Linked DNA regions of Homo sapiens. The protein of the gene in region 2 interacts with the protein of the main gene of each other region in a biochemical or structural test. Each region holds a gene or a part of one and is shown on either strand. Other genes may lie near its edges.

What was found.
Region 1: the proteins of NUP85 (region 2) and SEH1L form a complex in vitro, tested with the Homo sapiens proteins (one study listed by IntAct).
Region 3: the proteins of NUP85 (region 2) and CCR2 interact in a biophysical measurement, tested with the Homo sapiens proteins (one study listed by IntAct).
Region 4: the proteins of NUP85 (region 2) and NUP43 form a complex in vitro, tested with the Homo sapiens proteins (2 studies listed by BioGRID).

Annotation. Positions count from the first base shown.
Region 1 is NC_000018.10:12,969,606-12,977,827, reverse strand, and holds part of SEH1L (nucleoporin SEH1), read right to left. Parts: intron 6,676-8,222; coding exon 6,577-6,675; intron 2,096-6,576; exon of another isoform or gene 1,946-2,095; intron 1-1,945. UniProt on the Homo sapiens protein: Component of the Nup107-160 subcomplex of the nuclear pore complex (NPC). The Nup107-160 subcomplex is required for the assembly of a functional NPC.
Region 2 is NC_000017.11:75,229,538-75,232,968, reverse strand, and holds part of NUP85 (nuclear pore complex protein Nup85), read right to left. Parts: intron 1,630-3,431; coding exon 1,546-1,629; intron 1,397-1,545; coding exon 1,331-1,396; intron 1,142-1,330; coding exon 990-1,141; intron 119-989; coding exon 1-118. UniProt on the Homo sapiens protein: Essential component of the nuclear pore complex (NPC) that seems to be required for NPC assembly and maintenance. As part of the NPC Nup107-160 subcomplex plays a role in RNA export and in tethering NUP96/Nup98 and NUP153 to the nucleus.
Region 3 is NC_000003.12:46,355,177-46,362,063, reverse strand, and holds the end of CCR2 (C-C chemokine receptor type 2), read right to left. Parts: intron 4,588-6,887; 5' UTR 4,537-4,587; coding exon 3,454-4,536; 3' UTR 2,388-3,453; coding exon of another isoform or gene 2,204-2,387; 3' UTR 1,124-2,203; downstream 1-1,123. UniProt on the Homo sapiens protein: Key functional receptor for CCL2 but can also bind CCL7, and CCL12. Also transduces signaling mediated by CCL13.
Region 4 is NC_000006.12:149,726,646-149,734,867, forward strand, and holds part of NUP43 (nucleoporin Nup43), read right to left. Parts: intron 5,091-8,222; coding exon 4,968-5,090; intron 4,119-4,967; coding exon of another isoform or gene 3,988-4,118; exon of another isoform or gene 2,874-3,987; coding exon of another isoform or gene 2,845-2,873; exon of another isoform or gene 1,916-2,844; coding exon of another isoform or gene 1,875-1,915; exon of another isoform or gene 1,835-1,874; intron 1,834-1,834; coding exon of another isoform or gene 1,745-1,833; exon of another isoform or gene 554-1,744; coding exon 324-553; 3' UTR 1-323. UniProt on the Homo sapiens protein: Component of the Nup107-160 subcomplex of the nuclear pore complex (NPC). The Nup107-160 subcomplex is required for the assembly of a functional NPC.

The DNA.
Region 1 (8,222 bases), on a different chromosome or scaffold from region 2:
GGGCTTGATTTATTAGCCACTAACATCTTTCTTAGGAAAAGAGTAACACATTGCCTAAGTATTTGAATGTAAATAAAAAAGTAAAGCTGGTAACAGGAATTGAGGTTTTTTTGAGACAGTTTCACTCTTGTGCTGGAGTGCAATGGCGCAATCTTGGCTCACTGAAACCTCCGCCTCCTGAGTTCAAGTGATTCTCGTGCTTCAGCCTCCTGAGTAGCTGGGATTACAAGCGTGCACCACTACGCCTGGCTAATTTTGTATTTTTAGTAGAGACAGGGTTTCACCATGTTGGTCAGGCTGGTCTTGAACTCCTGACCTCAGGTGATCCACCCGCCTCTGCCTCCCAAAGTGCTAGGATTACAGGTGTGAGCCACTGCGCCCAGCAGGAATTGAGTTAAGTGATAATAAAAGGAAACTATGCAAAGGCTATTTCATCCTTGCAATTCTATTTCTTTATCTATAAATACAGAATAAGAGGATAATGAAGGCAGTGGTAGATCAGAGTTTTCTACTAGGTTCTTCTAAGATTGAATATCCTGGACAGAACGGCAGCACCTAACCCCCTGCATGTAGGAGACTGGGTGGAGACATCTCCCCATCCCACCTTTCTACAGCATTCTTCACTTGACCTTCTTTTCATCCCAACATTCTTCCTAAAATCTCTACCAAGCTGGTACACACCTCAAGGTTCTCTCCTTGATCTTTCTCACCCATCCAATCACCCTAAGCAATCTCATCCACATCCTTGCTTCTACTGTGTGGTCTGCAGCAGCCTGGGAGCTTCTGGGAAATCCAGAATCTCAGCCCCCTCCTGGGGCCTACACAATCAGAATATGCTTTTTTTTTTTTTTTGAGACAGAGTCTGGCTCTGTCGCCCAGGCTGGAGTGCAGTGGTGTGATCTCGGCTCACTGCAAGCTCCGCCTCCCAGGTTCATGCCATTCTCCTGCCTCAGCCTCCGGAGTAGCTGGGACTACAGGGGCCTGCCACCACGCCCGGCCAATGTTTTTTGTTTTTTTTGTATTTTTTAGTAGAGACAGGGTTTCACCATGTTAGCCAGGATGGTCTCGATCTTCTGACCTCGTGATCTGCCCACCTCGGCCTCCCAAAGTGCTGGGATTCAGGCGTGAGCCACTGCGCCCGGCCAGAATATGCATGGTTTCTACACCCATGGTTTCAGTACCTATAAACCAATAATTCCTAAATCTATCCCCTGCAATTCAGGGGATAGATTCTGGCCTTCTACCAAAGGCCAGAAATAGGACAGGTGGAGCTAAGAGCACACATGCTGCAGCCAGAACGTGTTTGAATCCAGGCTGTAACGACCTTCAGCAAGTTCTCCGTAAAGTGGGAGGAACACCCGTACTGTGGCAGAGAGATTCTAAGTGCCCCCATGACCCGCACCTCCTGGTGGTCCCGCCCTTGTGGAGGCTCCTCCCCATGAGTGTGAGTGGGGCCCGTGGCTTGTTTTCTACCCAGGGGACGGAACATGGCAAGGTGGTGGGACAACACCCGTGTGACTACAACACACAAGCCTGTGACGCCTGCCTCATGAGAAGACTCTCCTGCTTTCAGGCCTTGCAGAAGCAGCTGCCATGCTGTGAGGACACAAGGGAGGGTCTCGTGGCAGGAACACGAGTGCTGCCAACAACCAGGTGAGCTCCGAAGTGGAGTCTTTCCCAGTCTGGCCTGACTCTTGACCCACAGACATTGAAATACCGAATCTGTACTGTTTCAGCCACTGAGTGATAATGCTGTCATGCAGCAATAGACAACTAATCTCAGCTATTCTATCCATCTGCCTTTACACATCCCCACCTGGATGTTCCAAACGCACCTCAAACATATGTCTGAAATAAATTGTGCTTACCACATTCACTCCTCTTTGCTCAGTCCCCATCTCAACAAGTGGCACTACCATCAGCTAGGTCAGAAACCAAGACTCACGTGACCTACAGCTGGTGCCTCCTAGACAAGTCTCCCCGGTCCCTCTTCATCCCACGCCACAGTGCATGTCCTCATTCCACATCATAGTGGGCTACTGCATTCATCCCTGAGTTCCTGCTCCCAGTCCACACAGCTGCCAAAGTCATCTCCCTAAAAGGTAAATACAACCTTGTGACTCTACTGGACCCTGCAAAAGTCCAAATGCTGCCAGGATAGAGATCAGACTTGGCAAGCACCACTCTCCAAAATCTGCCTGGCCTGTTGGCCTGCCCCTCCCCTGTCTCTCTCCTGCATTAGCCTCCCCACCCACCGCCTCGACCCCACGCCCTTGTCTTTGCTCCTGCCTCCTCTCTGCTTGCAGAACACCCTCTGTCTTTCAAGATTCATGCTCAAACATCATCAGCTGAAACTTCTCACCCTACCAGGCAGGTATGTGCTGCCATCTCTAGCAGGTGACCATCCTCATCCATATCCTAGGCGCTGTAAGCTCCTTCAGCTCTTAGTACAGTCCATGCTGCTTATGAAATGTTGAAAAAGTGAGATTTTTTTTTTCTTACCTGAGGCAAGCTATATATTGTAATTAATTAAGGTGGCTGGGCACGGTGGCTCACGCCTGTAATCCCAACACTTTGGGAGGCCGAAGCAGGCAGATCACCTGAGGTCGACAGTTCGAGACCAGCCTGACCAACATGGAGAAACCCCATCTCTACTAAAACTACAAAATTAGCTGGGTGTGGTGGCACATGCCTGTGATCCCAGCTACTTGGGAGGCTGAGGCAGGAGAACTTCTTGAACCCAGGGGGCGGAGGTTACGGTGAGCCGAGATCACACCATTGCACTCCAACCTGGGCAACAAGAGTGAAACTTCATCTCAAAAAAAAAAATAAAATAAAAATAAAAATAATTAAGGTTATCTAAAGCTTCTCCTATCAGAAGGAGCCAAATAAGATCCTCAATGAGAGTGTAAATAAAGAGAATGAACAAAAAAGACTTTGTTTCTGGTCCTGACTCTGGACCTTAGACTAGTCATTCACTCTGTTGGTCTCAGTTTTCTCATTTGTAAAACAGTGTTAATAAAAGCTGTCTCCTCTACTTACAAGGTGGTTGGTAGGATTCAAACTTCATAACACACATAAAAATGCCCGGTAACCTATATAAACACATGGCACTTCTATTATCACTATCAATCCTAGATCTGTTTTAGTATTTTCACTCACAAATAAAAACAAATATATCCAACACTGGTTAATTTGGCAAATGTCTCCTGTCTACTAAATGGTGATACTACTTAGAAAAAGATAAACAGGCCGGGCGTGGTGGCTCACACCTGTAATCCCAGCACTTTGGAAGGCTGAGGTGGGCGGATCACAAGATCAAGAGATGGAGACCATCCTGGCCAAAATGGTGAAACCCCATCTCTACTAAAAATACAAAAGTTAGCTGGGCATGGTGGCGGGTGCCTGTAGTCCCAGCTACCGGGGAGGCTGAGGCAGGAGAATCGCTTGAACCCGGGAGGCAAAGGTTGAAGCGAGCCAAGGTTGCGCCACTGCACTCTAGCCTGGAAACAGAGTGAGACTCCATCTCAAAGAAAAAAAAAGAGAGAAAAAGATAAACAGGTATTAATAACGATACTACATAGTCCACTATCACATCTCCTCCACGTTCAATCTAAATAAGAACCTTCAAACAATGCTTACCTCAAAGAACCAGCAACAGAACTCCAAAAAGTGCTGAACTTAATAGGTTTGATTACTTCCCAAGTCAATAGCACACACCCCCACCTGCAGACACTCTTTCCCCAACACCACTTCCCCTCGTTTTTGATGCTGAAAATGCCAGACACTTGCTGTCTCACTCTCTTGCAGCTAAGGCATGGCTGGATGACCAAACTCCAGCCGCCAGCACCTGATAAGAAGCCTGCTAAGATACTTCTAGGAAAGGTGTTTTTTTCTAGAATACCCTTCTTTGTATTAGCATGTAAAACCTGACATTGTGCAGCTCTTTTGTGATCATAAGAGGGAGCTATCACCAGTGTACTAAGCATGACAGCAAGAAAAAAGTGGAAAATATTTAGGTAGGTCCTTGATGTCATCATTGAGCAACTGAGTCACTACCTAACCCCAGAACTGCTCCACCCTCAGGCTCCTTGTCACATGACATAATACAGGGAATCCCCCAGTCTAGATTTATTCTGTTAGCTAAGAGACTAGACTCAAATGCAATCTCAGATTATTTTTAACATTGGATTATTTAGGTAATTTAGAAATACTTAGGTAATTTCTAGGCCGGCCGTGGTGGCTCACACCTGTAATCCCAGCACTTTGGGAGGCCGAGGTGGGTGGATCACCTGAGGTCAGGAGTTCAAGACAAGCCTGGCCAACATGGTGAAACCCCGTCTCTACTAAAAATACAAAAATTAGCCAGGCGTGGTGGCACGCACTTGTAATCCCAGCTATTCAGGAGGCTAAGGCAGGAGAATCACTTGAACTCGGGAGGTAGAGGTTGCAGTGAGCTGAGATTGCATCACTGCACTCCAGCTTGGGTGACAGAGTGAGACTCTCAAAAAAAAAAAAAATAGGTAATTTCTATTTGCCTGTATTTTCTTTCAGAACTAACTGCAAGTTATTTATCTTTTTACTCAAATCTTACTTATGAAATATTTTCTTTTCCTATGTTTTAGAAAAAAATCTTTTTTTGACACTGCTGGAGTGAAGTGGTGCAATTTTGATTTACCGCAGCCTCGACCTCCCAGGCTCAGGTGATCATCCCACCTCAGTCTCCCAAGTAGCTGGAACTACAGGCATGCGCCATCATCCCCACAGCTAATTTTTGTACTTTTTGTAGCGAAAGGGTTTCACCATGTTGTCCAGGCTGGTCTTGAATTCCTAGACTCAAGTGATCCACCCACCTCAGCCTCCCAAAGTGCTGAGATGGCAGGCATAAGTCACCTCGCGTGGCCAATGATACACCTTTTACGTTTTTGGGCTTATGTCTACATATTCATTCTGCTCAGCTCAGGTTGAAATTTACTTTAACAAGCCCAACACTTCATGAAGCCTCTATAAAATGTGCTATTAATAGGGCTCATAGTTTTTACAGCTTAAAACTCCATGAAAATCTCTAAGACCATTTCCCATCACTGCAGCACATTCTACTGGACAGCACTGTTGAAGACTGAGCCTCTCTGCAGACACCAACAATCTAGGAAGGTAGAAGGTGTAAGATCCCCTTGGTAACCCAGATGGTAACATTTGGAATTGCAGAGCCCACGGGAGTAACACTAGTTCCTTCTCTACTGCTGGCCCTGCCTAAGATCTGACTATTAGACTCAAGAATTTTGTCTAGTACCTGCGAAGCCCATCTGATCACCTGACAAGTGCTCTCTTCTCCTGTAAGACTGAGTAGTGTGCCTCTGAGACACTGCTTTTGGCTCTCAGAAGCTTTGCAGACACTTGTATCTCGGCATGACCAAAATTAACTTACCTTCACATGCTGCCACACTCTACCCAAATCTGCCTTGTTCCCAGAGTTCCTTATCTCAAGAAATTACACACATTGAAATTACACACTGAACTCTTAAGCCAGAACCTTGGAAATCATCTTAACACCTTCCCCCTTCTTCCTCAGTTCAGTTCTCAAATCCAATCAATCACCAGATCCTATTGATACCACTTCTCAATTATTCTCAAGTTGTCCACTTATCTCCATGCCACTGCTACTACTATCCCAAAGCCACGTACTCTCCCACCTGGACTGTCTTCATAGCATCCTAGCCGTGAATCCACCATGTTTCCCTCCAAAACACTTGTCACACCTATAGAAGATCCATCTGATCCCATTATTCCCTATTCACATCACCTGTAAGATAAAACTGAAACAATGGACATTACTTCTTATAGATACAAGTCTTGCCTATTTCTCTCCACACTCATTTTTGCCCAGCATGTTCCAACAACAGTATAAATATACTCCCTCTCTCTTGCTCACGGCCTTACCACATGCAGTTTTCTCCACCAGGAGTGCTTCTGCCCTCTTTGTCTGGCTAACTTCTACTCACCCTATAGGTCATCTTCTAGGTGAACCTTCCTAGCCCCTAAACCAGATTAGGTTCCCCAGGTATAAGCTCTTTAGCACCCTAATTCTTCCACTTCATAAGATTCATCACCCTTTTTTACTATTATTTTTTGTTTCACTGCAAGATGGTACATCATACTGGGAGATCAATTACCTTCTCCTCTTTTTTTTTTTGAGGCAGGGTTTCGCTCTTGTTGCCCAGCCTGGAGTGCAATAGCGCAATCTCAGCTCACTGCAACCTCCGCCTCCTGGGTTCAAGCGATTCTCCTGCCTCAGCCTCCCGAGTAGCTGGGATTACAGGCACCTGCCACCACACCCAGCTAATTTTTTGTACTTTTAGTAGAGACGGGGTTTCACCATATTGGCCAGGCTGGTCTACTTTCTCCTCTTTATCACTCATGCCTGTGCTATCACAGCCTAGCACAGAACTTGGTATATTATAGTAAATCAGCAAACATATGATGAATGACACATAATTCTGTAAATGAATAAAGAAATAACATTTTAAAAAATTAAATGCAATTCTGAACAATTATTAAAACCAAAGCAGGACTGACCTGGTGTTTTCATTATATTCAAAAATCTGAACCTTGGCCATTGCGTTGGGGCTACTGTCATCACTTCCTACGGCGATCATGGGGGAATGAGCACGAGAGCTAGAAACGGGGAGAAAGAACATTTTAGATAACAAAAGAAATACACATTTCATTCACAGAATGAACACACTGGAGGCAAGCAGACAACCAGCTTACAGTTAGCCTGTCACACTACTAGTGAATCTAGGTCTCTGCCACATAGCTGACATGGCCACACTGCAAGTATGCACCTGAGAATGTCACACATGGGAACTGAAGATTCCATCCTTATGAACTGTTTTTAGCATATTCTTATGGCTCAGATAGAAAGGAGCTCTTTGCCTGAAAAAAGCTTTCAAGCATTCAACATATTTTTAAAAGATACTTAAGAGGTCTTAGTAATTTTTCCTCCTGAAATTTTTGGTCATTAACTATGAAACAAAAAGTAACCCTACTGTGACTAACTTCATGACAAAAAGATCTTAAGTGCTTTGACAAAAAGAAGAAACACTGCGGCAGGGTGGCTCATGCCTGTAATCCCAGCATTTTGAGAGACTCAGGAGAGAGGATCATTTGAGGCCAGGAGTTCAAGAAGAACCTGGGCCACATAATAAGACTCTATCTCTACAAAAAAAAAATTTGTTTAATTAGCCTGGTGTGGTGGCATGTGCCGTTTGTCTCAGCTACTCAGGAGCTGAGGCAGGAGGATCACTTGCGCCCAGGAGTTGGAGGCTGCAGTGAGCTATGATCGTGCCACTGCACTCTAGCCTGGGCAACAGAGTGAGAGTCTCTTTCAGAAAAAAAGAAAAGAAGAAGAAAAAACAGATGGACAGGGGAAAAGTGGAAAAGACTACCCCTGCAGAAGTCACGATCCCCACGTCATTCCCCTCCCTAGACTCATCTGTGGTCAACCTCATTTTGAAAAAGGCAAAAGATGAGCAATGAAAGAATGGCTCTCCTGAACTATAAGCTGAATGACTTTTTAATTTCTATGCCTAATTAACATAATTTCCTTTGCCTCCCTCATCCAGATTAATTAATATCTCTGTAAACCTGGCACCCTTGCTTAACCTTTAGCCTCAGTATTGTGCACTACTAACCTCTTAAAGCTAAAAACAAAATGTGGTAACTGACAAAAAAAATTAGTTCTTTATTACTAAAGCTTCAGGTAATTAGATCAAATTATCTAATTAAGAAAAGTACCAGGCAAACTACAAAATGCTACAGTAATAAAATAAAATTATAAGTTATTTATAATAATTTTTGGCCATTCAAATAGATGTAAATTCCACAGCAATTTCTGTGTCTCACAAACTTCCTTTTGCGTTTTTTTCCTGTTTTTTTGAGACAGAGCCTTGCTCTGTCACCCAGGCTGGAGTGCAGTGGCGATCTCTGATCACTGCAACCTCCACCTCCTGGGTTCAAGTGATTCTCCTGTCTCAGTCTCCTGAGTAGCTGGGATTACAGGCGTGAACCACCACACCTGGCCACAAACTTCCTTTTTCAGTGTTCTACAAATACTTGGTTTTGATTTTTTTTTTTTTTTTGAGATGGAGTCTCACTCTGTCGCCAGGCTGGAGTGCAGTGGCATGATCTTGGTTTACTGCAACCTCCATCTCCTGGATTCA
Region 2 (3,431 bases):
CTGTCTGACACGAGCGTGGCAAAGGCGGCATCCTTAGCACGGATGCTCCAAGAGAGGGCAGAACCCAGGCGATTGTTGCGGACGGCTTTCATGGCTAAGATCTTACAAATGCTGCGAACTTTGCAGGGGAAAAGAAAAGGTAAACGGCTTTCACTCCACAAATCACTCCATTCCTGAGCCCTGTGGGGACCGGAGTGGCCTCACAGCCTCACTCCACCGCAGAGCCACTCTTTGGGCTCTAAATGCAGCTGGATCGGCAGAGCTGGAAACTCGGCTGATTAACAGTGTCTGGGATCTGCTAAGAGTGTAAGTGCCCATCACGGCAAGACTGGCTCTATGAGTGTGTGTGGCTTCAAGGGGAGCAAAACGTTGCTCCCTACATGTCAGCTCTTCTATTTTTTTTCTCCCTACGTGTTTCTCCCTACGTGTCAGCTCTTCTATTACCTCTCCAGATGCCTCAAATCACATCTTCCTGTGGATCGTGAATACCATATGCTTTCAGAAATGGTCGTGAACATGCAACTGCCTCTCTGCAGGGTAATAACTCATGTTTACATTACTCAACAGTGAGGGGAGAAATGAAGGGGCAGACTTGGTCATCCTCATTCCACTCTCTCTGCTTTTCTGGAGCCACCTCCAGCACTGCTTCCCCATTGAGCCAGGCTGAGCTAGCAATAGCAACCCACCTGGACAGGGAAACAGCGCCAACCCCAGCCCTGACCTCGTGGAATCAAGTGTGTGAGAAAAGGGGCGGCTCAGGCCTTTCCAGATGGCGTGTAGATTTTGTCTGGGTTCCAGTGGATCCCTAGCTTTCCTGTCCCTCCCAAGTAATTATCCCATCTCTTAGTTTACCTCTTGGCGTCCACAGCCCCACGTCTCCAGTGTGGCTCGTGAGGAGGAGGATGGCTGGGGTAGGCATAAAGTGTGACCTCAGGATCCCCTGACTCCTGCGTCCCACAGACAGTAGGCTGGGAGCAGGGCCAGCTCACCTTGTTCAGTCATCTGCCGCTGCTCACAGATCCGCAGCACCTTCAGGGCTTTCTGCTCGGTGTTCAGAGGTATCCGCTCAATGTGCAGCTCCAGGGAGACTCGGCCCAGCTCGGGGCAGTAATCAAAGTAATCGACCCCCAGCTGCCACAGGCTGCAAAGGTTCGAGGAGGACAGACATGAGGTGCTGCCTCATGGCTCCGAGGACTGGCACCTACAGCTCCCTTTCACTGACCCTTCCGAAGCCTTCAAGGAGCCAACTGGGAGAGAACAGTCCAAGCTCCAATGGCACCCGCATGCTGAAGAGCACCCGCATAGCCCACACCCATGGGGTCCTTCCTACCTGGGATGAGCAAACAGTCCCGAGGCGTACTCCAGCAGGAGGAACTCTCTCATGTTGGAACCGAAACTGGAATAAAACATAACAAAAGACCAAGACTCCTGGCCTGCCCTGTTCAGGGCCCCCTTAGCCCAACCTCCCTTTCAGGCATTCAGTTCACACCACCCTCGGGGGCCTGGTGGTAAGAAGAGGAGGATCGGTGCCTCCCGGCCACTTACTAGAGGTTGTGTGACTGGAGGAGCTTGCAGTGGTCCAGCAGGTCTGTCAGGTGGGCCACAAACCACCAGTTGCTCAGGGCGATGCTGCAGATTCAGACACCAAGGCAAGAAGGAAAATCAGGGCACAGGCCGCGTCCCACAAGAGTGGGGGTGAGCAAGAAACCCCACATGTCCTGTCCCTCAAAGAGATGGGGCCGGGCGTGATGATAGCTCATGCCCGTGATCCCAGTACTTTGGGAGGCCAAGGCAGGCAGATCACCTGAGTCCAGGAATTTAAGACCAGCCTGGGCAACATGGCAAAACCCCATCTCTACAAATACAAAAATTAGCCAGGCATGGTGGCACACACCTGTAATCCCAGCTACTCGAGAAGCTGGGGTGGGAGTATTGCTTGAGCCTGGGAAGCAGAGGCTGCAATCGGCCGAGATCACGCCACCGCACTCCAACTTGGGTGAGAGAGCACAACCATATCTCAAAAAAAAAAAAATCGCTCAGAAAGTAGTTGAGGTGGAGTCTTGCTCTGTCACCCAGACGGGAGTGCACTGGTGAGATCTCGACTCACTGCAACCTCTGCCTCCCAGGTTCAAGCAATTCTCATGCCTCAGCCTCTTCAGTAGCTGAGATTACAGGCATGCGCTACCACACCCAGCTAGAAAGTAGCTTTTGAATGTTCTCACCACACGCACACCAAAAGGGTCACTATGTGAGGTGACAGATGTCACTAGCTTAATTTCACAATGTATACATCTATCAAAACATGTTGTTGGCCGGGCGCGGTAGCTCACACCTGTAATCCCAGCACTTTGGGAGGCCGAGGTGGGAGGATCATGAGGTCAGGAAATCAAGACCATCTTCGCTAACACGGTGAAACCCCATCTCTACAAAAAGTACAAAAAATTAGCCGGATGTTGTGGCGGACACCTGTAGTCCCAGCTACTCTGGAGGCTGAGGCAGGAGAATGGCGTGAACCTAGGAGGCGGGGCTTGCAGTGAGACGAGATCGCGCCATTGTACTCCGGCCTGGGCGACAAAGTGAGACTCCATCTCAAAAAAAAAAAAAAACAAAAAACATGTTGTACACCTTGGCCGGGTGCAGTGGCTCATTCCTGTAATCCCAACACTGAAAGGCCGAGGCGGGTGGATCACTTGAGCTCAGGAGTTCAAGACCAGCCTGGCCAAAATGGCAAAACCCCATCTCCACCAAAAATACAAAAGTTAGCTGGGCGTGGTGGCGTGTGCCTGTGGTCCCAGCTACTCGGAAGGCTGAGGCAGAAGATCGCTTGAGCCCAGGAGGCAGAGGCTGCAGTGAGCTGAGATCGTGCCACTGCACTCCAGCCTGAGTGACAGGGCAAGACTCTGTCTCCAAAAAAAAAAAAAAAATTTTGTACACCTTAAATACATACTACTTTGTTAATCACACCTCAATAAAGCTGGGGAAAAAAATGGGAGGGAGTGGGCTGGGCCAGGGGAAAGGACACCTCAGCTTCCCAAAACAGCTGTTGCTACCCAGATTTCTAGCTGATGGTTATGTCGAAACCATTGGAGAAGCCAGTGAAAAGGCTATAGGGGACCCAGGCTAAGGGAGCCAAAGCCTTAGCCTGCACGAAAGCCACCAACAACTGGAAGGAAGGGCTGAGACAGTGCCCGGTGTCTTCCCAAAGGATCCAGCAGCCTCCAAGGCTGGAAGGCAGCAAGCACTGAGAGCAGAGAACTAACAACACAACTCAAGTGACGGAGACCAGACATAGTGCTGCACAAAGCCACCACGGTCTCTCTACAGGGCCCAGCAGGCCTGAACCACACAGTTAGGTCTTAGATCACACACGCACACACTCCCACTCTCACTCTGTCTCTCTCTCACTCTGAAGGATTCTGAGTGAGCAGCCG
Region 3 (6,887 bases), on a different chromosome or scaffold from region 2:
CTTCGGGGCCTCTTTGCAAAATGCTCCAACCTCCCCAGCTGCTGGGGATATCACAGATCAAGGGAGGTGGCATGGGGTGGGCTATGCCAAGACCCTTCCTTACCAAAAAGTCTTCAGACACTCATCCCTCAGAATGATGATGAGGGATCATCATCTTCCACCTGCTTAACTCGAACAGCCTACTCAAATGTCCCCAGAATAAACGAGACTTGAGGATTCCACTTTAGAAAGAGAGATGGTTGGCATTTTTTTTTTTTTTGAGATGGAGTCTGGCTCTGTTGCCCAGGCTGGAGTGCAGTGGCCCGATCTCGGCTCACTGCAAGCTCCGCCTCCTGGATTCATGCCATTCTCCTGCCTCAGCCTCCCGGATGGCTGGCAATTTTTAAATGGCAGTTTCTTTGGCAGCAATAAAATCCTGCTGTGGCTGTTATTCCTATGATGCAAGACTGTCATTGCATTAGTCACTCTGTCCTCCAGGCTCTCAGCACTTTTCACAGATGCCTCTGTTCCTGCTCTGCACAGCGCACTGTGACTGTGCACAGGACCTTCTCTACCCCTCCCACTCCACAGCTGGCCCTGGACTTGGAGGTGTAAAGGACACTGGCATTAACATCTGTCTTTCTGTTTCCAACCCAGTCTGGCATAGGTAGACCCTCCGGGATGCTTGTCATATTGAATTCCATGATTGAAAATAAATGGATAGTTTTCCAGATTCTATATATGAAGTCACTATATACCACATGTCTTAATCGGTTTTTGTGCTTCTTAACAAACAACCCCTAAAACTCAGTGGCTTATCACAGCAAACACAGACTTCTTGCTCATGTTATATGTGGCTGCAGCTCCCTGTGTCTTCTCATTCACCAGGGCGCACGGGCTGACGGGTGTGATCTGGAATGGGCCTTCCTGTGGCTGAGCAAGAGGCTCCGCTTGGATGAGGCAGATGTCACTTCTGCTCACATTCCAGCAGCAGAGCCAGTGGTGGAGGGCGTGGGGTGTGTGGCCTGTAGGGCGCACTGCAAGTCACACCACAAGGGCAGGTGTGTGTAATCACACAGGGGAAGAAGTGAAAAGTTGTGAACACAACACAATCTTCCACACCACAGTGTAAAAAAACAGCCAGTTGTTTTTAAATCTTTTATCAACATAGTTATAGCATTGATTTATTTTCCAAATCATAGTTGTTAAAAACAGTATTTACATTTCATCACCATCAACTTAACATTTTATGCATTCATTAGGATCATACAAATATATGAAGGTGAAAGTTCTGCTCTGTCCCCACTTCTTTCTGAAACCTTCTTTAGCCATGTGGCCTGAAAGTAGAGCCATAGTCCAGCTTGGGAGTCTAGTTCCCAAGTTGCCTGGTTCTAGAAGCCCAGTGTTTCTTGCTTGCATCAGATCAGAAACACACTGGGCAACATAAGAACATTCTTAACTTGGCTCGACTAAGAGGAAAGTCTTTGCTTACTTCAGGGAGCTTCTCCACCTTCCATTCTTTACCAATAGGGTTTAAAAGCTTTGATTAGAAGCCAACTTGATTTAGGAGTTCCCACTGGCAAAATAGGGAACAATATGAGCATCAAGGACATCTGCGAAGCACTGAAACACTCGAATGTGATTAAACGCATGACTTCATAATGATACAAAACAAAACACAAAAGGCTTTTGGCAGCAAGCCTGAGAGAATGGAGATCCAGCTGAGATGACAGCGATGGAGCGTATACTGTGATTCAAACGACATCATTACTTAGATGCTGCATGCACATAGGCTAATGTGCCCACAGATCACACACTTCCAACTCCTGCCAATCAACAACTATTGGGTTGACTCAGCAGTCTCCCAAACATACCACCTGCTCAAAATTCTTAAGCTCAAAGCTAGAATTATCTCTGTGACTAATACAGCATTTTCACGTTTGACATGATAGTAACTCAAACTAACTCTTTACCACATTTACAAGTTGCAGTTTTCAGCTTTAATTTTATTTTTACTATTTAAAAAAAGTCTGAACTCTATGCCTGTATTCAAAAATGAGGAACTGGAAGGTAGTTTGGAAAATACTGTTTTCCAACCCAGCTGGAGTCTCTCTCCTCTCAGCCTTCCTGCCTGGTAACGTAGACACCAAGATTCACACTGTGAATCACACATCTGTGAAGCCAGACGTGTGATTTCCAAAGCAGAGATCTGTCATTTCTGTCTCTAGGCTCCTTCTTTGTCCTGAAGACTGGCTTCAGGGGCTCTGCCAATTGACTTTCCTTTTCCACGACCATCGAGGAGTCCTTGTGTAGTCACTTTCACATTCTTTCCTGGTCTCACTCCTGGACCTCCACACACTGGTTTTTGGAGTGGGGCAATCCTACAGCCAAGAGCTATGTGAAAAAGGCTGTGGGGAAAAGAGAAGAGTGAGGGGAGTGGCAAGGCAGGGAAAAGCAAGCACAAAACAAACCAGCTCAGATCCAGACAAGAAGCTTTACTGGGTTCTGATGCAGCCTTCCTGGCTCTCTCCACTTAGTTGATTTCGGAAATAGTTCTGCAGTGGTTCCACACGATCCCCGTCCTTTGCTCCTGGTGAAGGAACTCATCATTCTCCACCCCCTTCTCATAATCACTACCTCCTGGAGAGATCAAGCAAGAGCCTATATATATTGCATATACATATATTAGCATATCATAGATAATGCATCTTTTATAAACAAAAATTTTCTGAATTTTTAGACAGGGGGATGTGGCCTAAGAAGCATCTGAACAATGGAGCATGATATTTCATAGATTTCAAATGTAAGGTGCATGGGTGCCATAGATAAACTGTAATAAAGCAAAAATATGTCATGCACTTATGCAAAAGAGAATCATCGGACTCCACCAAAACTCCCAGGTTATTGCAGTTCCCAAACTCTCCCTGACCTGGTGAACCCTTCAAGGTTAAATACACGTGGCAGATGGGGCTAAGGACCAGTATCATCTCCTGGCTGAATGCGTGAGCCCTTTGCTCACCTTTGTCTTTGTCCAGGCTCAGCCATGCTCATGTCTCCCTCCTTCTCCTCTCAGCCCTGACCCCACTATCCCTCACTCCCATTCATCTGTGCCTGTCACATTCTCTTCTTCACCTCCAGCTGGCCCTTGATTTCAAGACATTGACAGAATCAGAGATTGAGTGAAGAAATTATGAAGACTAGAAAAAGAGGATTAGCACAAGGTAATGAGGCATTTTTCAGGAGCTGAGATGAGCTTTCTGGAGAGTCAAAGTCTCTACCCACAGTTTTTCTGGATTATTCCCTGAGCACATGTTGGATATGCATTGGGTGACATAGTCTGTATTAGTACACACAGCCCTGAGGTTCCTGGGCACCTGCTTTACAGGTTTCTATTGTTCAACAAACCCTTGAAGTTTGTTGTTATATACAGATTGTTATCTCCCTTTATAAACAACAATCAAACTGCTCCTCGTTTTATAAACCAGCCGAGACTTCCTGCTCCCCAGTGGAAGGCGTGTTTGTTGAAGTCACTCCATCCACTGTCTCCCTGTAGAAAACTGGACATTGTTTGCAGAAGCGCTTGGTGATGTGCTTTCGGAAGAACACCGAGAGATACCTTCTGAACTTCTCCCCAACGAAGGCATAGATGATGGGATTGATGCAGCAGTGAGTCATCCCAAGAGTCTCTGTCACCTGCGTGGCTTGGTCCAGTTGACTGGTGCTTTCACAGTTACTCAGGCCGAAGAATTCCTGGAAGGTGTTCAGGAGAATGACAATATTATAGGGAGTCCAGAAGAGAAAGTAAACAATCATGATGGTGAAGATGACTCTCACTGCCCTATGCCTCTTCTTCTCGTTTCGACACCGAAGCAGGGTTTTCAGGATTCCCGAGTAGCAGATGACCATGATGAGCAGCGGCAGGACCAGCCCCAAAATGTTCCTCATTATTGTGTGGAAATTATTCCATCCTCGTGGAAAATAAGGGCCACAGACATAAACAGAATCTTCTTTCTGGCATTTAGTAAAGATGATTCCTGGGACAGAAGCAAACACAGCCACCAACCAGGTGATCACACTTGTCACCACCCCAAAGGTGACCGTCCTGGCTTTTAAAGCAAACACAGCATGGACAATAGCCAGGTATCTATCGATTGTCAGGAGGATGATGAAGAAGATTCCGCCAAAATAACCGATGTGATACAGCCCTGTGAATAATTTGCACATTGCATTCCCAAAGACCCACTCATTTGCAGCAGAGTGAGCCCACAATGGGAGAGTAATAAGAAAAAGCAGATCAGAGATGGCCAGGTTGAGCAGGTAAATGTCAGTCAAGCACTTCAGCTTTTTGCAGTTTATTAAGATGAGGACGACCAGCATGTTGCCCACAAAACCAAAGATGAACACCAGCGAGTAGAGCGGAGGCAGGAGTTGGGCCCCAATTTGCTTCACGTCAAATTTATGACAGGGAGCACCGTAATCATAATCAAAAAAGGTGGTGACTTCTTCACCGCTCTCGTTGGTATTTCTGATAAACCGAGAACGAGATGTGGACAGCATGTTGTGGATGTACTGGGGAAATGCGTCCTTGTTCAATCCACTTTCTCTGTTCTGTAAACAAAGAACAAAATGATGACCACACAACACAAACACCGCAATCCATGATCTTCCAAATAGTCTGGCACCACATAAGCAACTTCCCAGTCTTTGCCCTCTCCCTTGCAGCCATCTCCCTGAAAGCATGTGTGCCAGTTCCTGATTTGCCTTTCATTCCTAGTGGCAGACATCAATGATTTACCCAACAGCCATTTTCCGACACCCTTTATCTTCCCCAGCAAACCAGATTCTCATTTTCAGGCTAAAAGCGCTGGGCGTTTGTTTTCTCTGGCTCCTTTGCAGGTGGTGCATAGGTCTGTGACTCATTGCTGGACCATAATATGAAAAGGGAGTCTGCTGGGGGCTTCTGAGAAAGCTCTTCTTCCCTGATAAGACAGACACAAGAGAACCCTCCACCTGCCCCTCCTGCTCTGGCAGCATGCCTAGTGAGGGCATGGTGCCATGAATGGAAGACCTAGAGAACCATGAGAAGCCAGGCAGAATCCTATTATCACTGAGTCCTAAACCCACCCTTGAACTATTCACCTTCTGCCTTCTTTTTTTTTTTTTTTTGGAGACGGAGTCTCGCTGTGTCTCCAGGCTATAGTGCAGTGGCCATGATCTCAGCTCACTGCAACCTCCACCTCCTGGGTTCAAGTGATTCTCCTGCCTCAGCCTCCTGAGTAGATGGGACTATAGGCGTGCACCACCATGCCCCGCTAATTTTTGTATTTTTAGTAGAGATGGGGATTCACCATGTTGGCCAGGATGGTCTCGGTCTCTTGACCTCCTGATGCACCCGCCTTGGCCTCTCAAATTGCTGGGAGAAAAACAAGCCCCTGTTTTAAAGCCATTATGAACTGCATTTTCTGTTCTCTGAAGTCAAAAACGTTCTAACTGATGATTCTCTCAGCTTTCTGCCTCCATCATCCTGCCAAAACTTCTCTTGTTAAGATTGCAGTGACAACCCAATTTTTCAAATGCCCTGGTTTTATTCCAATTCCACCCTCTTCAAGTATTTGATCCTTCTGCTAACTTCCTCCATTTACAATTCTTTTTGGCTTCCAGATGGGAGGGGCTGTGCTACCGCTTTTTATTCATGTTCTTTGCTGGCATCTCCTCCCCGTGCCCACACCTTAAGATTCCCCAGGCACCACACTTAGCTCTCACCTCTTTAATTTTTTGCCTCTTTATCCTTGCTACAAAGTTCTTCCTGAATTGTATTGTCTAAACTCATGGTTCCTACTCCCTTCTATGCTACTGTTTTCTAAAGCTCTGTCTTCAAGCTCCAGCTTTCCCCTAAGCCTTAGAGTTGAATTTCCCATTGCCTGATGCATATCTCCCCATGCATGTATTCACTGCATCAACACTTATTGAACACCTACTATGAACCATACTCAGTTTTAGGCACTGAAGTGAGCAAAGTGGGTATCATGCAGGGACCTCAAATTCAACCCACCCCAAATGGGGCACTGCTGAAAACTCCTTCCGATTGTGGATTCCTCCATTGCCTAAGAAGCAAAATTGGGCATTGCCCTGGGTTGCTTCTCCTTCTGAAAATTAGGAGCCAGTTTTTGGAGCCAAACAAACCTGGATTTGAATCCTTATAGGCAGTGTAATCTGGGGCCAATTACTCCTTCAAGTGCCGATTTCTTTATGCATAAAATATTAACTATGCTGAGTTGCTGTGAAGATCAATGGAGTAAGGACTTAGGACAGCATCTGACACAGAGAAATGCCCTGTATTATTATCATGTCATTTGAGTTCCACCTCATAGATGCCTCTCAGATTCATCCCCTCTGCACTGCTTTCAACTGTCACTTTCTTGCTTCACACACTCCTCACTCCTGGCTTTGTTGTAGTCTTTCCTTTGCTCATGGCTCATCTCAAGCCATGTTCCCTCTCAACCTATCTTCTCTTAAGTTGAAATTGAATAGTCACTCTTAGCTTAAAACCTCCAGTAGCCCTATGACTTATATGTGGTGGGCTTCAAAGATAATGTCCAGACTGCCCAGCACAACATCTTTTCTGAGTTTGCCTCTTTTCAGCCTCACCTCCAGTCCCTTCTCCAATCCCAAATCCTGTGCTTCAGTCACAGCCATCTTCTCTTCATTTTCCCTAAACTCACCATTTCCTTCATGCTTCAGTGGTTTTGCAGGTCCTTGCCCCTCTGCCCAAAATGATTGGTGAGCTTCTATTCACCCTTCAATACCTCCTGCTCAAATCCCCCTTCTCTGTGAAGCCTAATCTGTATCCTCTGTCATATTACTCTTATCACATAACACTGCATGCATCTAGATAAGCACTTATTATG
Region 4 (8,222 bases), on a different chromosome or scaffold from region 2:
TTCCCACAACATCAAAAATAAAGAATTAGTTCCACAAGCTGTCTGTCAATAATACTCTGAAGGCAACCTATTCATCAGCACCAGAATCCCACTGATTTTCTTCCACATGTTCACAATCTTTTGCCATCAGTCATCTATCGGATTCTACAACTGTTTGGGAGTGTCAGGCTAACAAAAGTCAAAACTGGGCATTGACATTAATGGTAGTTTACTGATGTTTCCCCTGCAAATCTCGTATTTTCTGATACTAAAATTTTGCACAGAAGTTGGATTTCAAAAGGCTAATTGCATGTTCTATCTGAAATCTTATAATTATAGTACTTCTACGAAAAAAGATGTCTAGTAACATAAATTGCTTCTGCATCGGTTCCACAAACAAGACAAGGACCTAAAACATCCAAAGTGTTCACAGACAGAGACCTACTGGGAAGTAAGCTTGTGATTTCAATTCGGTCTTTTGCAGGATCAGTGCTGAGCCAGGAGCTAATGACAGACTGGTGAACATTAGCTTGGTTACTAATGCTATGAGACAAAAAAGTACTGCTTCTTCCTCCTGGGAGAAAAAAAGAAAAGGAAGAAATCTTTCAAGATGATTTTTATATTAGTAAACATTCAAACTTCTACTGATATTTAGAAAGGTGATGATATCAATGTGTTTAATTCTCAGAATAATAGGCTAATAATTCCATTATTATACATCACCACTTTGGACCAAAGGCTTATTCAGTGATATTAAATATTCAAATTTCCATGGGATAATATGGATACCAAACTCGAAGTCTTCAGGAAAAGCAGGTGATTTCAACTGACTTTCTGTTCATCTTTTAATGGAAAGTCTCAGAAAGGTAGCAAAACGGCCAGCATACAAGTTGAATAAGGAAAGAAAAAAAAGAAACCAAAAATGTAGGTAATACATGGAAATATAAACTCTTGGGTAATAACAAAATAAAATGATCATGAGAAAGAATTTCTAGACATATTTCTAGATGAACATTTCTAGAAATATATTTCTAAATATATATTTGTTACTATATTTCTTAAAATATAATCGCCTTACCTCAAATCTTTCATTCTTATGCTTTTTAGATAAATGTTCTTACAAGCAGATTAGAACACTACTAGATTATAAGGTTTTATCTCTAACAGCGCACTGTACTTACTATAGAATAAAGTGAGGCAGAGGCAGTATATTTCAATTTTAGTCATTATTCGCAACTTACTTTCCTCTCAACTTGCTGTCATATCAAATAAGTACAAATTTAATTCACTCAACAAATGACTGAGTACCTACTATGTGCCAGGCTCTGTGCTAAGTGCTCTGTGCCAAGTCCCTATGTCTTGAAGCTTAAAGATTAGTACATTTAAAATCTTGCTGATCCTTTAAAATATGGCTGAACTTCCTTCTCTAAGAAAACTTTGAAGACAACCTCTACTTCATGTTTTTCTCTTTCCTTGAACCCTCAGCACTTGTATGTACCATTAATTTACTACTTTATAACAATTCTTATATCCTAATTGAACTATCCATGCCTCTGTCCATGACTAAATATGTCTTAAGAGCAGGATGCATATTTTATATGTTTTACTTTTTCACAGTGTCTAATACTGTGCCTTGCAATAGTAGACACAGAATAAAGTTTTATTTCCAGTCTAACCAAGGTTCCTTAAAAGTAAACTTGCAAGTTCAAGACTGTGCGGTTAGGGGAGGAAGGAAGTAAAAACGAAGTACATACTTAGTTAATCCTTAGATGAAACTGTTTGTTTCTCTGTAGATGAAGTTATAGCATGGACATGCATGCATGCTCCACACATGCTCTCCGCTCCAGAATTTTTCTGAAGAAGTTTTAGAATTTTTTTCCCCTTAGTTTTTCTGTTTATCTTTTACTGCCCCTACATTTTACATTGCTCTTGGACGCTGTAAAGATTAACACATTATTCAAGCCACTGTGATAAGACTCCTTCCTCATCTCCCTGTTTTCCACTTTTCTCCTCCCCCTCCCATAAGTCTAAAGTCCTTATCATGGGCTACAAAGTCCCAGGGCTCCTCAGCCACCAGTCCTTATCTCCCACCACTGTACCCTGCTGCCTGAGCTCCAACCGTGGTGTCCTTGCAGTTCTCTGCCTGTCTCAGGCCCTCAGCATTTGCTGTTTCCTCTGCCTGGAATGCTTTCATGTCACTTATGCCTTCACTTCTCTTAAGTCTCTGCTCAAATGTTCCTTCTGCCAAGTGGCCTCTTCTGACTCTCACTAGAGTAGCTCCCCTCACCCCTGTCTTTATTCTTTATCCTCCTACTCTGCTGTATTCTTCTTCATGGTAATTAGCAGTGTATTTGGCCATGTTATTTTCCTTTTTCTTTTTTTTTGAGATGGAGTCTTGCTCTGTTGCCCAGGCTGGAGTGCAGTGGCGTGACCTTGGCTCACTGCAACCTCCAACTCCCGGGTTCAAGCAATTCTCCTGCCTCAGCCTCCAGAGTAGCTGGGATTACAGGCACCCACCACCACGTTCAGCTAATTTTTGTATTTTTAGTAGACACAGGGTTTCACCATGTTGGACCAGGCTGGTCTTGAACTCCTGGCCTCAGGTCATCTGCCCACCTCGGCCTCCCAAATTGCTGGGATTACAGGTGTGAGCCACCGCGCCCGGCCTCCTTTTCCACTTTGCTGTGCTCCACTATATACTGTAGGAGGTAGAAGTTGGTAAACTCCACTTTCCAGGCTGCTTTGCCATCTGCCATCCAGATGGGCCTTGCCAATAGCAGGTATTAATGGTGGGTGACTGGAAGGCGGAAGGGAGAAGCAGCTCCTTCCTGCTCCAGGTTTCTGGCAACAACACTGGTGGTAGTTTCAGCCTGGTTGAGGGAGCGCCTTTTCTCCTAATTCAGAACAAACTTTTACAGCATTTTCAACAGTCAAGTAGCAGGGGTACTAACAATTACTATTTCTGGGTTTTCCCTTTTCTTCCTATTTGTTCTCCCAGCACCCCTCCTATTACCTTTTGTTTTCCCAGCCCTTCTAACACATGTGAGACCAATTCCTTCTACATCTAAGGTAGTTTCTGACATTCTAATTGGACTCTTACTGATACATTATCTATTTTTTTAACTATTAGAATATTTGCTCTATGCGTTTCGACATTTCGTTCTGCTCACTGTTACACGTCCTAACACCTAGAAGAATGCCTACCACATGGTAGGCATTCAGTAAATATTTCTGAATAAATGAATAAGCAAAAGAACTTTGGAGCCACAGACAAACCCTCAAAAACAGGAAACTTGGAAAATGCAAAAACACATAAACCCCGATTACAAGTGCATGGTCTTTGGCTGACCATAACCTACAACTGACTGTAATGAGGAAAGCACGCCCTTTTTTTTTTTTTTTGAGACGGAGTTTCGCTTTTGCTATCCAGGCTGGAGTGCAATGGTGCAATCTCGGCTCGCTGAAACCTCTGTCTCCTGGGTAAAAGCAATTCTCCTGCCTCAGCCTCCTGAATAGCTAGGATTACAGGCATGAGCCACCACACCCGGCTAATTTTGTATTTTTAGTAGAGACGGGGTTTCTCCATGTTGGTCAGGCTGGTCTCGAACTCCCAAACTCAGGTGATCCACCTGCCTTGGCCTCCCAAAGTGCTGGGATTACAGGCATGAGCCACCACACCCGGCCTGAGATCAGGCCATTTAACCAGTACCCTCAGTTACATCAAATATCAACTTTTTTCTTGCCATTCACACAAACTTGGCAATGCAATATGAAAGATTTGCCACTGTCTATGCTATGGCATGAGGGTCCAGGTTAATGGCACTCACAAAGGAGAACCTTGGCTGTCTCAAGTGAGCCAGCTTACAGCATTTCTAGCCATCAGCCATACAGTAGTAAGTAACTTGACAGTCAGATTTCAAGCCCTGTGATACTCAAATTTACTCTGAGGCAAGAGAATAAAAATGTTTTGCCATTAAGTAAAAAATACGAGGATGTCTAATTTGGTATTTAAAAGTATAAAATGGCTGGGTACAGCCAGCTCATGCTTATAATTGCAATACCTCGGGAGGCCCAGGCAGGAAGATTGCTTGAGCTCAGGAGTTTGAGAGCAGCCTGGGCAGCATAGTGAGAGCTCATCTCTACAAAAAAATTAAAAAAAAAAAATTAGCTGGTTGTGGTTGCAAGCATCTCTGGTCTTAGCTATTTGGGAGGCTGGGGCAGGAGGACCACTTAAGCCCAGGAGGGCGAGGATGTAGCGAGCTGTGATCATGCCACTGCAGTCCAGCCTGCATGTCAGAGTGAGACGCTGTCTCAAACAAAAAAAAAACAAAATAAAAGTATGATAAAATTACACATAACAGGCTGGGCACAGTGGCTCATGCCTGTAATCCCAGCACTTTGGGGAGGCTGAGGTGGTCAGATCACTTGAGGCCAGGAGTTTGAGACCAGCCTGGCCAACATAGCAAAACCCCATCTCTACTAAAAATACAAAAAAATTAGCCAGTTGTGGTGGCACACACCTGTAATCCCAGCTACTAGGGAAGCTAAGGCACAAGAAAAGCTTGAACCTGAGAGGCAGAGGTTGCAGTGAGCTGAGACTGCACCACTACACTCCATTCTGGGTGACTGAGTAAGACTCTGTCTCAAAAAAAAGGCCAGGTGTGGTGGCTCACTCCTGTAATCTCAGCACTTTGGGAGGCTGAGGCAGGCGGATCATTTGAGGTCAGGAGTTCGAGACCAGCCTGGCCAACATGGTGAAACCCCATCTCCACTAAAAATACAAAAAAATTAGCCGGGCACGGTGGTGCATGACTAGTAGTCCTGGCTACTCGGGAGGCTGAGGCACGAGAATCGCTTGAACCCAGGAGGCGGAGGTTGCAGTGAGCTGAGATCGTGCCACTGCATTCCAGCCTGGGTGATAGAGTGAGACTCTGTCTTAAAAAAAAAAAAAAAAAGTACACATAACAGTATTCATTAAAAAGTTTTACCTTGGTGAAAGAGTGACGACTTTTCAGGTACATCTGTGGAAGCATCCCAGTGCCAGAGGGATCCATCTTCAGAGCAGGTAAAAAGATGTTCTGGGTTGGATGGGTGAAAGTGAACTTCCCACACTAAGAGACAAGAATCAATAAGCTCATTCCTGTGCAGATTCGCTGAACAAACAACATTAAACCCCCATCTCTAGGCATCATCTTCCATTATCCTCCATCACATACCTTCGAGCCTCAAGTCTGTCCTAAAAATTAAAGGCTTCAGAATTAAAGAAAAGACATAATGTAACTTTCCAATGGCTATAACACATAGAAAGGAAAAAGAACACTTTAGGAGGCTAAGGCGGGTGGATCACCTGAGGTCAGGACCAGCCTGGGCAACATGGTGAAACACCATCTCTACTAAAAATACAAAAGTTAGCCAGGCGTGGTGGCGCGTGCTTGTAGTCCCAGCTACTTAGGAGGCTGAGACAGGAAAATCACTTGAACCTGGGAGGCGGAGGTTGCAGTGAGCCGAGCTCGCACCACTGCACTCCAGCCTGGGCGACAAAGTGAGACACTGTCTGAGAAAAAAAAAAAAAAAAGAAAAGAAAGGAAAAAGAAGCCAACTAAATTTGCGTACTGGGCAAGGAAATAAATGAAAATAGTAGCCAGGCACAGTGGCTCATGCTTGTAATCCTAACACTTTGGGAGGCCAAGGTGGGTGGATCACTTGAGGTCAGGAGTTCAAGACCAGCCTGGCCAACGTGGTGAAACTCCGTCTCTACTAAAAATACTAAAAATTAGCCAGGCATGGTGGTGGGTGCCTATAATCCCAGCTACTCAGGAGGCTGAGGCAGGAGAATCGCTTGAACCCGGGAGGCAGAGGTTGCAATGAGCCAACATCACACCATTGCACTCCAGTCTGGGCAACAAGAGTGAGACTCTGTCTCAAGGAAAAAAAAAAATGTCCAGGCGCAGTGGCTCATGCCTGTAATCCTACCACTTTGGGAGGCCGAGGTGAGTGGATCACCTGAGATCTGGAGTTCAAGACCAGCTAACCAACATGGTGAAACCCCATCTCTACCAAAAATACAAAAAATTAGCCCGGCGTGGTGGCAGGTGCCTGTAATCCCAGCTACTTGGGAGGGTGAGGTAGGAGAATTGCTTGAACCCGGGAGGCAAGGTTGCAGTGAGCTGAGATTGCATCACTGCACTCCAGCCTGGGCAAAAAGAGCAAAACTACGTCTCAAAAAAAAGAAAAGAAAATCATTGCTAAAACATTTAACCCTATTACTTTATGAAAAAGCTTATTTTATTTTATTTTTATTTTTTTAAATAGAGACAGGGTTTTGCTATGTTGTCTACCTTGGTCTTCTACTCCTGGCGTCAAGCAATCCTCCTGCCTCAGCCTCCCAAAAGTGCTGGAATTATAGGTGTGTGCCCAGCTAGGAATGACTGTCTTTTACGGAAAAGTTTTTTTTTAAATTGGTAAGTTGTCTTATTTTTCAATTCCTGTGTCATTAATATATGAAGATTATATTATTGGAAAAACTGAGAAAGATCCTAATGAAATATAAAAATGAATTTCTAAGAGGCAATATCCAATATTGGTTAATGCCAAGATTCTGAATACTTCTGGTCTTTATCACAGAAATAGCAACTGACTTCTACCAAACCAAAATTTGGAAATGTTCCAAGAATTTGGATCCAGTCTCAGATGGAGGGCTTTTTATTTTTTATTTGTTGATTATTTATCAAGAAAAACTATTTCTTAGCCCACATATGTATGCTTCATACTTTAGGAACATAGGTCAGTGACAAACTTCTACATAATTCAACTCAAAGAAATTCTCTCTCTCTTTTTGAAACAGGGTCTTGCTCTGGCGCCCAGGCTGGAGTGCAGAATGGCATGGTCATGGCTCACTGCAGCCTTGACCTCCAAGGCTTAAGCAATCCGCCTATCTCAGCCTCCTGAGTAGCTAGGACTACAGGTATGTATCACCATACCTGGCTAACTTTTGTATTTTTAACAGACATGGGGTTTCTCCATGTTGCCCAGGCTGGTCTCAAACAACTGGGCTCAAGAGATCTGTTTGCCTTGGACTCCCAAAGTGCTAAAATTACAGGCATGAACTACCGTGCCCAGCCCCAAAGAAATTCTATATATTCCAAAATCACTTTCAATTCTGAAAGATACCAGTCTTCCTCATTTCCTCAAAATCTGTTTTGTTTTGTTTTTTTTTTGAGACGGAGTTTCACTCTTGTTGCCCAGGCTGGAGTGCAATGGTGCGATCTTGGCTCACCACAACCTCTGCCTCCCAGGTTCAAGTGACTGTCCTGCCTCTGCCTCCCTAGTAGCTGGGATTACAGGCATGTGCCACCACGCCCGGCTAATTTTGTATTTTTAGTAGCGACGGGCTTTCTCCATGTTGGTCAGGCTGGTCTCGAACTCCTGACCTCAGGTGATCCACCTGCCTCGGCCTCCCAAAGTGCTGGGATTACAAGCATAAGCCACCGCCCCCGGCCATCATTTCCTCAAAATCTTTTATGGAATCATAATTTCTATAGAAATCTAATAATAAAAAAAATTAGCTAGGTGTAGTGGCATATACCTGTAGTCCCAGCTACTCAGAAGGGCAAGGCAAGAGGATCACTTGACCCCAGGAGGTTGAGGCTTAAGTGAGGTACCATGCCACTGCACTCCAGCCTGGGCAACATATTGAGACCCTGTCTCTACAAAAAATAAAAAATTAGCCGGGTGTAGTAGGGGTGCGTGCCTGTAGCCTCAGCTACTCGGGAGGCTGAGGTGGGAGGACTGATTGAGCCAGGGAGGCAAGGCTGAGGCTGCAGTGGGCTGTGATCATGCCACTGCATTCCAACCTGGGTGAGAGAGACCCCATTTTTAAAAAAATATATAGGGCCGGGCGCAGTGGCTCACACCTGTAATCCCAGCACTTTGGGATGCCAAGGCAGGCAGATAACCTGAGGTCAGGAGTTTGAGACCAGCCTGGCCAACATGGTGAAACCCCATTCCTACTAAAAATACAAAAATTAGCTAGGCATGGTGGCAAATGCCTTTAGTCCCAGCTACTAGGGAGGCTGAGGCAGAAGAATGGCTTGAACCCAGGAGGCAGAGGTTTCAGTGAACCGCGATTGTGCCACTGCACTCCAGCCTGGGCGACAGAACAAGACTCTGTCTCAAAAAAAAAAAAAAAAAAGGATAATCCATTCTGGCATGATATCAAAGACAGAGTGAGAAAATGAAAAATT